2 linked regions of the Homo sapiens genome follow. The protein of the gene in region 2 purifies or fractionates together with the protein of the main gene of each other region. This does not show direct contact. Each region holds a gene or a part of one and is shown on either strand. Other genes may lie near its edges.

Region 1 (7,389 bases), on a different chromosome or scaffold from region 2:
AGGCGTGTACAACCATACCTGGCTTTCTTCAATCTTATTTTTTAAGATGTATTTTTATTTTTAAATTTAGTATTCCCTTTTGATAGATGGGGAAAGGAAGGCTCAGAAAAAGGAAAATGAAGTGCCCAAACATATCCAGTGAAGACAGGATTTGAACCTGTCAGGCCACCCAGACTCCAGAACCCACTTTTGAGTTTTTTCTACTTTGACTAAAATGAAGTTAAAAAAAAGAAAAATCAGGCAGATTATTGGAGCAACACAAACTCCCTGGGCAATGGAATTTGGAGTCAATCTGTAGAAGGGCTCAAATGCCAGGCTTAGTAGCTAAACTGTATAGTGGGGTGGGGTCGTGGGAGCTATAGAGGGCTCATGCGCTGAGGAGCACAGGTGCCTGTGTGTGGGAGCAGTGACCAAGGAAGCTGGGCATGTGCAATGGGGCAGGACTGTGGAGTGGCCTTCATTGATGATTAGACAAGCAGCCCGTGGCTTGTTCATGGGCTGCAGAGAGCACTGAGTGTGAGTGAGCTTGGCCAGCAGGTGAATAGGGAAAGGGCCTGGGCAGGGGTGCGGCAGGGCTGGGGGTGGGGTGAGATGGGGTCAGGAGAACCCAGAGTGTCCTGACACCCCCCTGCCTCCAGGCTGAAGTGCCCTGGGAGACCCGCCAGCCTGCCTGGTGAGCGGCACCGTGCCACCCAGACAGGGTGGGAGGACCTGGCGGCTGGGCGGCAGCCAGGAGCCCTGCCTCCGCCCCTAGCAGCCGCAGAGACCTCCGCCCCGCCCCGAAATCGCATCCTAGAGTGACAGGATCTGAACCACCTCCAAAGGCCGTTTGATTTATCACCAGCCCGGCTTCCCTGCCGCCTCTTGCTATTTATAAAGAGGTTTCCATTCCTGATGACCGCCTGCCGGCCTGCCAGCCTTCAGGGCGAGCGGTTCCCCACACTTGCCGCTAGGTGGCGCCCTCTCCCCACCAAACAGCACGGTCCCCGGTCCCGCCCCGCCATGGGTGGTCTGGCCAGATTGCGGTGTTATTAGGATGGAGGGTGGGCAGGTCCCACCACCTACCCCATTATTCAGACATAGCAACCCCACTGCCTGGCATTCCGCTTTATAGCTGCTGTGTTTGATTGTTTTTGGTGGAAATGCAGATAGCTTGGGATGGAGTCCTTGTGTCTTATAATGCAGAGGGTCCAAAAAGTCCAAGCTCCCATCCCGTTTGTTCTGCCAGGAGAAGCTGGTCCTCCCTGATAGGAGTGTTGTGTTGGTGGCAGAACTGATATTGGAAACTGGGCCCCATAGCCCCTATCCTGGAGCCAGGTGTCCCCCAGGTATCACTTGGTGAACTTAACTTCCCTAGATGGGGCCCAGGCCAGCAGGAGGGGTGGTGCCAAGGGGAATCCTCAGCAGCCCCTGGCACTGACCATGAGGGCTGTGCTCTGTCCCCCAGATGATTGCCCGCCACCTCCGGCCCCCTTCCCTCACCGCATGGTGGAGCTGAGGACCGGGAATGTCAGCAGTGAATTCAGTATGAACTCCAAGGAGGCGCTCGGAGGGTGAGATCTGGGACCCCAGCTGGGCACTCATGGACAGAGAGTACACCGGGCTCCTGTGGCTTCACATTTCCCCTGTGCAAGGCCCAGACACACACCCCGCTGAGACATGGCCACATGGACATGTTCACCTCTGTGTGGGACACACACTGTGTGCAGCTGTCACATGCTGATGTGCACTCAGTGTTGCTGTCACTTACTCAGACGCACCGTCAGCCATTCAGTGCTTCCGTAGGAAATACACAGCATTTTTCTGTCTGTCTCAGCTCCAGGCACCACACTGACCCCCTCATGGTGATTCCTGCTTTGTAAAAAGCCCTGACTCAGTCTTATACCTCTGCAGATCCTCCCTCTGCCTGAAGGTGCCCTCCCCCAGGGCCCAGGGCCTGCCTGCCCTAAACCTCTAAGGGTCGCATCCCAGGGCCATCCTCCCTACACGCCTGCTCTTCCTGTGCACGTGGTCTGTGTGGTTCAAAGAACCTGCTTCAGCCATTGTCCTGGCAGAACAGCTCACAGCTTCAGGAGGGAGTCAGGGCTGGCTGGGGTGAGTGCTCCCATCTCACCAAAGGGGATCCAGAGGCACCACTGGGTCTGGGACCAAGTTAGGATCAGAGCAAAGGATGCCACTGACCCCGGTGGGCTCTGGGGTCCCCTCACTTACAGCCTCTTCTCTTTCCAGTGGCAAGTTTGGGGCAGTCTGTACCTGCATGGAGAAAGCCACAGGCCTCAAGCTGGCAGCCAAGGTCATCAAGAAACAGACTCCCAAAGACAAGGTAGTGAGGTTGCGGGGGTGGTGGCTGCCCAGGATGGGGAGGGGATCCTTGGAGTGGGCACCTCTCGCCTCCCTCCACCAGCGCTGCTGAACCTGGGGCCTGGTATGGGAGTTTGTTGCAGTGAAAATACTACACAGATAGAGAGATGGATGGACAGCCCTGCAGCAGGGGCCTGAGGACCCTACCCATAACCAGATACTTCAGTTAGTGAACTTATCTGGGGACTTCCCTTTTAGGCATGGGATATTCATGCCCTCTGGTTCAATTCAACAAACACTGATGAGTGTGGGCTCTGGGCCAGGCCCTGTGCTGGGCACTGGGGGTCTGGGAGTGAAGTGGGTGTGGTCTCCACCCTCAGGGAGCTGAAGCCAAGGTAAACAAGCCTGGCCTAGAGCTTTGCCTCTAGTACCCACGGCCTGGGCTGGGTTCAGAGGAGGCCACGAGCAGTGTTTGTTGAAGGAATGAAAGGATGCAGGCAGGTAGAGTGAGGGAGTCTGCTGTGTGAGGAGGTAATAGCAACCTCGTGTGACCACAGCTGTGACTCAGGGAAACTGCGGGGTAGCATTTTGGGGTTCAAGAGAGCTTCTGACTCAGGCCGAGGGGTCAGGGAAGCTTCCTGGACCAGCTGCCTTTTGAGCGAGGGCTTTGAGGAGACGTTCCAGTGGAGAAGGCAGGGGCAGAGTTTCAGGCAGAGGGGACTATGGGAGGAAAGGCTCGAGGGCCAGAGATAGCAGGAGGTGCTGGGGAGTGAGGTTCTGGGCATCCCAGGCAGAAGCCACAGTGTGGGCACAGGCCCGACCCCAGTGAAAGCGTGAGAAGCAGCTCTAGCCGCTGCAGCCCTGGGTCCCCATTATGGCTCTAAGCACACTGGAAGGAGTGCATTTTCTATGTGACAACGTCCTTTTTCGTCTCTTCCACTTACAGGGCCTGGGTCCGTGTTATTGTCTCCTAGGTCCCAGGCCTCTGTCACAGGCTCTGGCTCAGCATAGATGTTCAGTACCTACCTGCGGCTCAATTAACTGGGGCCAGTTTTCAGTTGATAATTATTGAGCACTTCTCTGCCATTCAGTGGGTCAGGGGCTGGGGAAATGTCAGTGACCTAAAAACACCCCTGCCCTCATGGGCTGACATGCTACAGTGGAGGGAGAGACAACTAAAACATAAAGCAAAAAGAAAAAAGAAAAGAAAAGAGAAGAAAAGAAGGCCTGGCATCAGGTACTGAGAAGTGCTAGGAGGGAAAATAAAGCCAGGTAAGGTAGAGGGGGTACAGGGCTGATGGGGGCGCTTTTAGATAGGGAGGTGAGATCAGTCCTCTCTGAGAAAGACATATGTGAGGTGAGAACTGAATGAAGGGGTGGGTAAAGGCAGAAGGGGAGCCATCCTGGCAGTGAAACAAGGGTTAGTGTTTAACCACTGGATCTGGGTAGGGCAGGTGTGGAGAGAGGCCCGATTTACAGCATTTGCCATTTCTCATGGTGTAAGTATTCCTATTATAGCCGATATATCAGCCTACCGATGTGACAGCTGGCTTGCGACTTTCTGAAAGTGACAAATAATGGTGTCTTAAACTAGGAAGGCAGTGGTGGAGGAGGTGCGAATGATTGGATGTATAATCTAGCTTGAAGGTAGATGATGCTGAAGAGTTGGGTCGGAGGTGGGGTGTGAGGGCGCGAGAGTAAGGGAAGAACTTAGGATGGCTCGTAACTTTTTGTCCTGCACCCTTGGGTGAAGCGTGGGGGTACTTTTGCTGCCAGGCAAGCCGAGAGCAACTCAATTGTGGGGAAGGGACGATGTCTAAGGTCTAATTTTGGACATGATAGATTTGAGATGTCTATTAGACAACTAAGGCAAGTAGACAGTTGGAGATATTGGAGTCTAGAATTCAATGGAGTGCTCAGAGGTTGAGATGTATATTTGGAAATTGATGACTTTGGATAAAATGTAAAGTCATGAGACTTTATGCAGATGCCCAGGGAGAGAGCAGAGAGAGGGAAGCGGTGAGGGGGGAGGATGGAGATCTTGGCATGTCAGTACTCAGGAGAAGAGCCGGCAAAAGGAAGATGTCCCAGCAGGCATGACTTGGGAGTGGTGAGGACCACAGATGTGGGGGTGGGGGAGAGAGGAGAGGCAAGGAGGAGGCTGAGCAGTGATCTGGGCAAGGCTAGCAGGCCTGTTCAAGGGTGCGGGTATGGAGGGTGGGTGGCAGGGAGTGATGGTGCCCAGCTGGTACCCTTGACTTCCCTGGTCCCCAGGAAATGGTGTTGCTGGAGATTGAGGTCATGAACCAGCTGAACCACCGCAATCTGATCCAGCTGTATGCAGCCATCGAGACTCCGCATGAGATCGTCCTGTTCATGGAGTAGTGAGTGCCCGAAGTAGTGGTAGGGGCTGGGTGGGGGTACCACCAGGCACGGAGCAAGCCGTGGAGGGGTCTGTGCACACAGCATCGAGGGCGGAGAGCTCTTCGAGAGGATTGTGGATGAGGACTACCATCTGACCGAGGTGGACACCATGGTGTTTGTCAGGCAGATCTGTGACGGGATCCTCTTCATGCACAAGATGAGGGTTTTGCACCTGGACCTCAAGGTACCAGACTGGGGCCTCCTGGGAAGGGTCAGGGGCAGCCTCCGACCCCCTGAGATCAGTGCTGTCACCAGCCATCCCTCTGCCCTCCCATCCCTCCATCTCTTCCTTCATCCATCCTTCCCTTCATAGATTCAGAAAGGGTTTATGGAATACTTACCAAGTGCCAGGAGCCGGGGGCACAGCAAAGAGAGAGAGGGGGGGAAAAAAAAAAGACGTGGTACCAGCTTTCATGGAACTTCTAGTCTAGTACTAAGTATTTGTTGAAAGGGCCTTTTGCAGTCCTGTGAGCCCCAAGCTCAGTGTGTCACACAGACAAGTGGCTAATAAGTGTTGCAATAGCACCTGCCTCAGCCTTGGCCCATGATAGGTACTAGGAGTGTCTGATCATTTATTCAAAAGCAACAAATATTTCTTGAGGGCCTACTTTATGCCAGGCAATGCTCTAGGTGGTGGAGATCCTGTGGTGAACCAAACAGATAAAAATCCCTGCATTCTTGGAGCTCTCAAATAAGTATAGTGTCAGCGTGGCAATGTGCATGAGGTAGGCGCTAACAACAATGTTTCGTGAAAGAATATTGATATCCTTCTTCTTTTTTTTGAGATAGAGTCTCACTCTGTTGCCCAGGCTGGAGTGCAGTGGCGCTATCTTGGCTCACTGCAACCTCCGCCTCCTGGGTTCAAGCGATTCTCCTGCCTCAGCCTCCCGAGTAGCTGGGATTACAGACACCTGCCACCACACCCAGCTAATTTTTGCAGTTTTAGTAGAGACAGGGTTTCACCATGTTGGCCAGGCTGATCTTGAACTCCAGACCTCAAGTGATCCGCCCACCTCGGCCTCCCAAAGTGCTGGGATTACAGACATGAGCCACTGTTCCCGGCCTGATATCCCTCTTCTGACCTTGCTCACTACCATGCACATGGTAGGTCAGGAAGAGCAGATCTGCTTTTTTTTTTTTTTTTTTTTTGAGACAGAAAGTCTTGGTCTGTTGGCCAGGCTGGAGTGCAGTGGTGTGATCTTGGCTTACTGCAACCTCTGTCTCCTGGGCTCAAGCAATTCTTTTGCCTCAGCCTCCCGAGTAGCTGGGATTACAGGCGTGTGCCACCATGCCCGGCTAATTTTTGTATTTTTAGTGGAGACGGGGTTTCGCCATGCTGGTCAGGCTGGTCTTGAACTCCTGACCTCAGGTGATCTGCCTGCCTCAGCCTCCCAAAGTGCTGGGATTACATGTGTGAGCCACCGTGCCTGGCCACAGATAGGTGTATACATTGCAGCAACTCCAGTCAGTTGTCCGTAGCTGTCCGGAGCTGAGTGTGGAGCTCTGGGTGTGGAGCAGGGAAGGGCAGCAGGAGTGCAGGGGGTTGGCAGTCCTCATGGCAGGTGTTAATGCTGTGCGTTAAGTGGCGGGACATGGAATCTTAATGTGGAGGCGCGTGAGCACCCATCAGCAAAGTGGATGGTACTTTCATTCATTCATTCCATAAGCATATGCTGGGTACTTTCCTTAATTCATTCGATAAGCACGTGCTGGGTACCTGCTCCTGGAAGGCCCCGTGCTAGGCATAGGGACTGTGAAGGAAATGGTCCCTGTCTCATGGAGCCTCCAGGGGAAACAGACATTCATAAAACAATTCCTAACTAAATAGGTCATTTTAAGCCATGAAAAGTGTTTGAGAAAATACACGAGAGTAATGCGGAATCGCACTGGGTGAAATTGAAGTCAGCACGGGTCTGAAGCAGGCAGGGAGATGCTGTTGCCGCCTCTAACACCTGTCCCAGTTTTGCTCTGTGCCCGACACTGTCTGAGTGAGGGTGCCATCTTCCCAACAGTCCCCTGGGTTAGGTGTGTTAATATCACTGCCACTGACAGAGGAGGACACAAACAGGGTGAGGAGGTGGGTTTCAGTGGGGCCAGAGTGGATGCAGGGAATTTAGAGGCTGATGGAGTAAGTAAGCCAGGAGAGAGATGCCAGGGGCTTGAGCCAGAGTGGCAGTGGGAGAGGGGAGGGAAAGGGGCCAGATGGAGGATACATTTTGGAAATAGAGCCAATCTGATGTGCTGAGGGTTTGCATGTGTGAGGGTTAGGAAAAGAAAGGATCAAGGGTGAGTCCTGAGTTACTGGACAGATGGTGGCCCCTTCACTGAGCTGGGGGCAGTTGGTGCCTGCATGATGACATTGGAAGACTGCCTTTCCCTAGTGAAGGCTAATTTCTTTGGGGCAGAATAGGGTCCCCCAATTAAAATGCAGTGCTCTGGGAAGAAGCTCAGTCGTGAGCCTCTGTATCCTAAAATGTGTTTTTTTCAGGATAATAATACGTTTTTTGTCAAAAAAAGTGTTTCACGGTCAAGTAGGTTGAGTGCACCCCAGCCCACAGGCCATGTCCTGGGTCTCTTGGCTGCAGGGCTTCTGAGGGCCTCCTGTGTGTAGATGGAGAATCTCTGAAAGGAAATTTGAGTCTGCTTCATTTCCCCAAATGCTTG
Region 2 (7,389 bases):
GCCACCACACCTAGCTAATTTTTGTATTTTTTTTTTTTTTTTTTGAGACGGAGTCTCGCTCTGTCGCCCAGGCTGGAGCGCAGTGGTGTGATCTTGGCTCACTGCAAGCTCCGCCTCCCGGGTTCACGCCATTCTCCTGCCTCAGCCTCCCAAGTAGCTGGGACTACAGGCATCTGCCACCACGTCCGGCTAATTTTTTGTATTTTTAGTAGAGACGGGGTTTTGCCATGTTAGCCAGGCTGTTCTCGATTTCCTGACCTCGTGATCCGCCCGCCTCGGCCTCCCAAAGTGCTGGGATTACAGGCGTGAGCCATTGCGCCCAGCCAAAAAAAAAAAAATTGTTTTAAAAGATGGTATTGGCAAGATGCTCCATGACTGTGAAGGGATATACTTTGAAATGGAGTGTGCCAAGGAAAGTGGTGCTTTAAAAACTGGTTTTGTTTAATGTGTATGAAATGTGTATAAAATCAAATACCTTAGAAAAAGATAAATGATAAACCCAGGCACTTTCTCTGAACTCTCTCTAAGAATCACCTTACCTACGAAAGATTGAGTAGACTAAGTCAATGTCCAAAACTTATCTTTCCTTATTCCTGTTTTCAATCCACAAAACAAAATTCATTTGTGTATCAGGCAGCCTGTAGTCCCGGATTCAATTCATTATGGAACATGAGCCCCGCACTTCTGAGTTTCTCATCCGCTAGCTGGTAAATGTGACCAGGCAGGACAGCGCTGGCACAAACCAGTGCAGGGAAAAAGAGAGGAAGTGATTCCAAGGCAAGGCGAGACTCCCAGACAAAGGATGGAGATGAGAGTGCTTTTATCAGCTGCTTTGTCACCAGTCCACTGTTTGAATCTCTACCTTTCTGTCCTAGTTCAGAGCTGCCAGACACACTGGAAGGTCTCCCACCCAGCTGGAGTTCAAGAAGGTCTCCGGTGTTCAGTTACTGGCTGCTTTGTTTAACAGTTAATTCCAACAGCCAATCAGACAATTCTAGACACTTTTAGTATCTCCTGGAGCTTTGGCCCTACTCCAATGACTGCTAAAAATGACAAACACACCCATGGTTCCACTTCCCCAAAGGCCAAAAAAATACGAATTGGATTTCAGTGTTTGTGATACAGAGTAATCCAAAGTCTTTAGGGAACAATAAAAGCAGCTCAAATTATAGCTCATTGTGACATGAAAAAAGAGAAAAAGAAAAATGGTACAGAGAAGTGCTAGTAAGAGGAAACCAGCAGTCATGACAGCTCTGCCCCAGTTCCCTTCTTCAAACGTGAGCTTCGGCGTAGGGCTGGCGCTCTACCCTGACTCCCTAGGCTCTACTTTTCCTTTGATGATGGCTTCTGCACTAAATGGCTGATCGCAGTTAAGGTGAAAGCTCCTGTCATTGCTTCAGTCCCTTCCAACTTGGTTAAGTTCAGAGATAACAGGTCTAAGGAATTTACAAAAGGGAACATTAATTTGTGCAAGAATATTTAAAACATCTATTGAGTATCAGGCATGGGCTTCAGAGAGCCTAAAGAGTCTGTAGCATAAAAGAGAAATGAAGACAAGCACAAACAGGATACATGTGATAGCTGAGGATGGATAACATACTATAGAGCAGTGGTTCTCAAACTTTCTATGCCCCTCATCCTCCTGGAGAGCTTGCTGTCAGGATTTGAAACCTATGTGCTACTGAGTGGCGTTCTTCATGACTGGATCTGGTCAGCACACCCCTCCTCCAGCTTCCAAATTCAACTCAAACCAAGACAGACTATCTGCAGGGATGGCATGTTCAACTCTGCAACAAGGCCTGTGGCCGGAGCAAACAAGATAATAGCCTACAGTCCCAGCTACTTGGGAGGCTGAGGTGGGAGGATTGCTTGAGCCCAGAAGCTGTCTCCAGCCTGTGCAACATAGGGAGACCTCATCTCTAAAAAACAAAATAGGCTGGGCATGGTGGTTCGTGCCTGTAATCCCAGCACTTTGGGAGGCTGAAGTAGGTGGATCACCTGAGGTCAGGAATTCGAGACCATCCTGGCCAACATGGTGAAACCCCGTCTCTACTAAAAATACAAAAAATTAGCTGGGGGTGGTAGTGGGCACCTGTAGTCCCAGCTACTTGGGAGGACTGAGGCAGGAGAATTGCTTGAACCCGGGAGGCAGAGGTTGTAGTGAGCCGAGATCACGCCATTGCGCTCCAGCCTGGGCGAAGACTGAAGGAGCGAGACTCTGTCTCAAAAAACAACAACAACAAAAAACAGTAAAATAAAAAATACAATAAAAAATAAAATAATGCTGGGTGTGATGGCTCACACCTGAAATCCCAGCATATTGGGAGGCTGAGGTGGGAGGAGCCCATGAAGCTGGGAGTTCATGATCAGCTTGGGCAACATAGTGAGACTCCATCTCTTTTATTAAAAAAAAAACAAAAACAAAAAAAAAACAACCCCAAATAAAAGCCTAGATGTAGGAGGTGATGCTGTGTCATCAACAGCTCTCACTTTGGAGAGAAGTAAAGAGGATGGTAATGCCTTTCATTTCGTGTCTCTGAAAAGGTTAAAGGATATTTGAGGCTGGGTGTGGTGGCTCACACCTGTAATCCTAGCACTTTGGGAGGCTAAGGTGGGCAGATTACCTGAGGTCAGGAGTTCAAGACCAGTCTGGCCAACATGGTGAAATCCCATCTCTACTAAAAATACAAAAAATTAGCTGGGTGCAGTGGTGTGCTGAGGCTGAGGCAGGAGAATCGCTTCAACTCGGGAGTCGGAGGTTGTGGTGAGCCAAGATCACGCCACTGCACTCCAGCCTGGGGTACAGAGTGAGACTTTTTCTCAAAAAAAAAAAAAAAAAAAAAAAAGGTCAATAAAATAAAGGATATTTAATCTATTTTCAGGAAAGCATGAGATGTCAATCTCTGGACCTGCCTTCTGGACGCCATTTATCTAAAATTCACTGTTTGTTTTTTTTTTTTGAAAGGTAAAGCACTAGTTTACCTTAGCTACAACTTTCATGGTATATAAACCTTGCAGAAACTTCATTAAAACTAACTGAAGGAACAGGTGCGGAGACTAACTGAAACAGTGTGCTTTACGAAGATTGTTAAAGTACTCACCAGCCAGTCTCCCCATGCAAACTTTAATGTGCATACAAATCACCTGGGAGTCTTGTGACTTGTGATGCTGGTTCACTAGGTCTGGGGCGAGGCCTGAGGCTCTGCATTTCTTCTTCTTTTTTTTTTAGACGGAGTCTCCGTCACCCTGACTGCTCACTGCAACCTCCGCCTCCCGGGTTCTAGCAATTCTCCTGCCTCAGCATCCCAAGTAGCTGGGATTACAGGTGCCCACCACCACGTCCAGCTTTTTTTTTTTTTTTTTTGTATTTTTAATAGAGATGGGGTTTCACCGTGTTGGTCAGGGTGGTCTCGAACTCCTGACCTCAGATGATCCACAAGCCTCAGCCTCTCAAAGTGCTGGGATTACAGGCGTGAGCCACCTTGCCCGGCGAGGCTCTGCATTTCTAACCAGCTCACAGATGAGGCTGTTGCTGCTGGTCCAGGCCCCACACCCCATGGCAAGGCTAAGTGCTTTAAACAAGGATGCTGCTAGTATTCTGGCACATAGGACTGTTCATTGCTTGATGAGATCCCTGGGATCATGATGGCAATGGTGAAGGCTGAGAAGGTGTAAAGGAGTGTGATGGGAGGGCAAGGAAATCGTCCCAAGAAAAGAATTAAACAAATACTGATTTGAGCTAGCAGAGATGGTGACATGGAAACAAGGAGATTGGGAAACTGGGTCATCTGGGGGAAAAAAAAATAAAAAATGTCACCTCTGTTGTGTTAATGTTCTAGAACAGTGGTGTCCAATAGAAACTAACGCTACTGGGCTGGGCGCGGTAGCTCACGCCTGTAATCCCAGCACTTTGGGAGGCCAAGGCGGGCAGATCATGAGGTCAGGAGATCGAGACCATCCTGGCTAACACGGTGAAACCCCGTCTCTACTAAAAATACAAAAAATTAGCTGGGCATGGTTGCACGTAGCTGTAGTCCCAGCTACTTGGGAGGCTGAGGCAGGAGAATCGCTTGAACCTGGGAGGTGGAGATTGCGGTGAGCCGAGATTGCGCCATTGCACTCTAGCCTGGCAACAGAGTGAAACTCTGTCTCAAAAAAACAAACAAAAAAACAAAACTAATGCTACCCACATGTGAAATTCTAAATTTTCTAGTAGTTACATTAGAAATAATAAATGATGAAATGTATATTTAACCCAATATATCAAAACTATTATTTCCACACGTGATCAACGTTTTATTATTTTGAGACCAGTCTGGCTCCATCACCCAGGCTGGAGTATAGTGGCGCCATCTCAGCTCACTGCAATCTCTGCCTTCCAGGCTCTAGCCATCCTCTCACCGCAGCCTCCTGAGTAGTTGGAACTACAGGCATGTACCAGCATGCCTGGCTAATTTTTGGATTTTTTGTAGAGACGGGGTTTCACCATGTTGCTGTGGCTGGTCTGGAACTCAAACTCAAGCGATCTGCCTTCCTCAGCCTTCCAAAGTGCTGGGATTACAGGTGTGAGCCACTGCACCCAGCCAATATTTTAAAATTGAGATATTCTTTTTTCCCCCTAAATATGAAGGCTTCAAATTCTAGGTTATGGTCATACTTACAGAACATCTCAGTTTGGGCCACATGTGCTGGTGGCTACTTTATGGGACAATGTAGCTCTAGAATCTTGCTACCCAAAGTGTGGTCCACATAGTGGCAAAAGCACCACGTGGAGGATGGTTAGGAATGAAGATTTCAGGCCCTGCTCTGACCTACCAAATGAGAACCTGCAGCCTAACAAGATCCTCAGGTGATGCAGAGGCACATAAAATTTGACAAGCATTGTTCCAGAACACAGGAATCAGCAAGTTCTTCTGATTGCTAGGACAGACACTTTTAAAAGCTTTTCTTTTTCTTTTCTAAAAAAGTAGAGATGGGGTTTCATCATGTTGCCCAGTCTGGTCTCAAACTCCTGAGCTCAAGCAATCTGCCTGCCTCGGTCTCAAAAAGTGCTGGGATTACAGTCATGAGCCACCATGCCCAGCATGTTTCTTATTTATATGACATTTAAGAAACTGAGACAAGAATTCAGGAGGGCTGATTACCTGCTTATTCCGTCTTGTCTCTTCCTTAAGAAGGAGATGAAACCATAGGTCTCAAAACAATGACCTAATAAACAGTTAAGGGCCAAACAACATTGAGCTTAAACAGACCAACGTGCAATGTTGCTGCTTTGAAAAGACAAAACGGCCAGCAGGTGGTGCCAGAAGCTAAGTGAGGGGAAAATGATTTTCTGACAAATGCTTAATAATAATAATTCATGTTTCAAAAATGTGTTTTGGGGCTGGGTGTGGTGGCTCATGACTGTAATCCTAGCACTTTGGGAGGCTGAGGGTGGATTGCCTGAGCTCAGGAGTTCCAGACCAGCCTGGGCAACATGGTGAAACCCCCTCTGTACTAAAATACAAAAAATTAGCCAGATGTGGTGGTGTGCACCTGTAGTCCCGGCTACTCGGGAGGCTGCAGCAGAATAATGGATTCAACCTGGCAGGCAGAGGTTGCAGTGGGCTGAGGTCACACCACTGCACTCCACCCTGGGTGACAGAGTGAGACTCCGTCTCAAAAAAAAAAAAAGTGTTTTGGTGCTGTCTGTAAAATGGTAGTTAAAAAGAAAGTAGCATTTCCCTGTCTTTCACATCCTCCTGTTAGCTCATCCTCCTGCTGTAGGTATCTGAAATCCTTAAGGGCTGAAACCTCTCAAATGGAACCAGTGAGTATTGCTGGTAAGGCTTGAAACAGACCATGCCATTTCCTAGACTTGGGGTTTTACGCTGAAGATAAAGCACCCTTCACTCACAGTAAGTGTTTGCAGATAGTTATTTCTCAAACAAGGAAAGCATAATAGATTGAGCAGGAAATGCAGAGCTGTAGTCTTTGATTTTGGCGGACGGGAGGAAAAAGAGACTACTCTAGGTCTGGTCTAAATTTAACAGGCTTAATGCTTGAATGCTTAATGCTGCAGAATTCAAGAGATAGCTAATGAAGTAAAGAGGAAAACATTCACTTCACACAATCCCAACATCTCGTTCATTTTTATTTTATTTTTGAGCCGGAGTTTCGCTTGTCACCCAGGCTAGAGTGCAATGGCGTGATCTTGGCTCACTGCAACCTCTGCCTCCCAGGTTCAAGTGATTCTCCTGTCTCAGCCTCCTGAGTATCTGGGACTACAGGCACCTGCCATCATGCCCGGCTAATTTTGTATTTTTAGTAGAGGCGGGGGTTTCTCCTGACATCAGGTGATGCGCCTGCCTTGGCCTCCCGTAGTCCTGGGATTACAGGCGTGAGCCACAGTGCCTGGCCCCGTTTATTTTTTTTTAAGCAGAAAACTTTGAATCCACAGAATTACACCTGTGCTATTTGTGTGTATCATATTTCTTCTATTTTTTTTTTTAGCCGGAGTCTCACTCTGTCACCCAGCCTGGACTGCAGTGGCGCAATCTCAGCTCACTGCAACCTCCGCCTTCCAGATTCAAGCAATTCTCCTGCCTCAGCCTCCCAAGTAGCTGGGACTACAGGCGCATGCCGCCACGCTTGGCTAATTTTTTGTATTTTTAGTAGAGATGGGGATTCACCGTGTTTCTCAGGCTGGTGTTGAACTCCTGACCTCAGGCGATCCGCCCGCCTCGGCCTCTCAAAGTGCTGAGAGGTGTGAGCCACCGCGCCCGGCCCCATATTTGTTCTATTTATGGCATCTAACGGGAACTTTATAATTTATCAACTACACTATTAAAACAGAAACACATTAAAAAAGCAGGAATAACAACACTGTATATTTTCTTCCAAAAGTCTCAAAGCCTATATTTCTATTAACGATGCCTTGTGTTTGTTTAGGACTTAAACATATACAAACCAAAGCAGTTTCTTCTTCTTTTTTTTTTTTTTGAGACAGGGTCTCCCTCTGTCACCCAAGTGGAGTGCAGTGGCATAAAAATGGCTCAGTGCAGCCTTGACCTCCTGGGCTCAAGCAAGCTTCTTTGCCTCAGCCTCCCCAGTAGCTGGGGCCACAGGTGTGTACCACCATACCTGGCTAGTTTTTAATTTTTTGTAGAGATGGGGTCTTGCCATGTTGCCCAGGCAGGTCTCGAACTCATGGGCTCAAGCAATCCTCCTGCCTCAGCCTCCCAAAGTGATGGGATTACAGGCGTGAGCCACCACGTGCAGCTGCAAAGCACTTTCAAATACATTATTGTATTTAATACAAATAAAGAAAATAAGAGATGCACACTTCCTGATTATCTCAGTAAGACCTATCTTGGAAACCATTAGGTTTTCAATTTTTGAAACTAAATT

Evidence for each region.
Region 1: the proteins of MTRFR (region 2) and MYLK2 purify together in Homo sapiens (affinity purification with mass spectrometry; 3 studies listed by BioGRID and IntAct, with this or other methods). This does not show direct contact.

Annotation. Positions count from the first base shown.
Region 1 is NC_000020.11:31,822,030-31,829,418, forward strand, and holds part of MYLK2 (myosin light chain kinase 2, skeletal/cardiac muscle), read left to right. Parts: intron 1-1,447; coding exon 1,448-1,553; intron 1,554-2,229; coding exon 2,230-2,323; intron 2,324-4,575; coding exon 4,576-4,685; intron 4,686-4,767; coding exon 4,768-4,909; intron 4,910-7,389. UniProt on the Homo sapiens protein: Implicated in the level of global muscle contraction and cardiac function. Phosphorylates a specific serine in the N-terminus of a myosin light chain.
Region 2 is NC_000012.12:123,236,185-123,243,573, reverse strand, and holds part of MTRFR (mitochondrial translation release factor in rescue), read right to left. Parts: intron 947-7,389; exon of another isoform or gene 540-946; intron 1-539. UniProt on the Homo sapiens protein: Part of a mitoribosome-associated quality control pathway that prevents aberrant translation by responding to interruptions during elongation.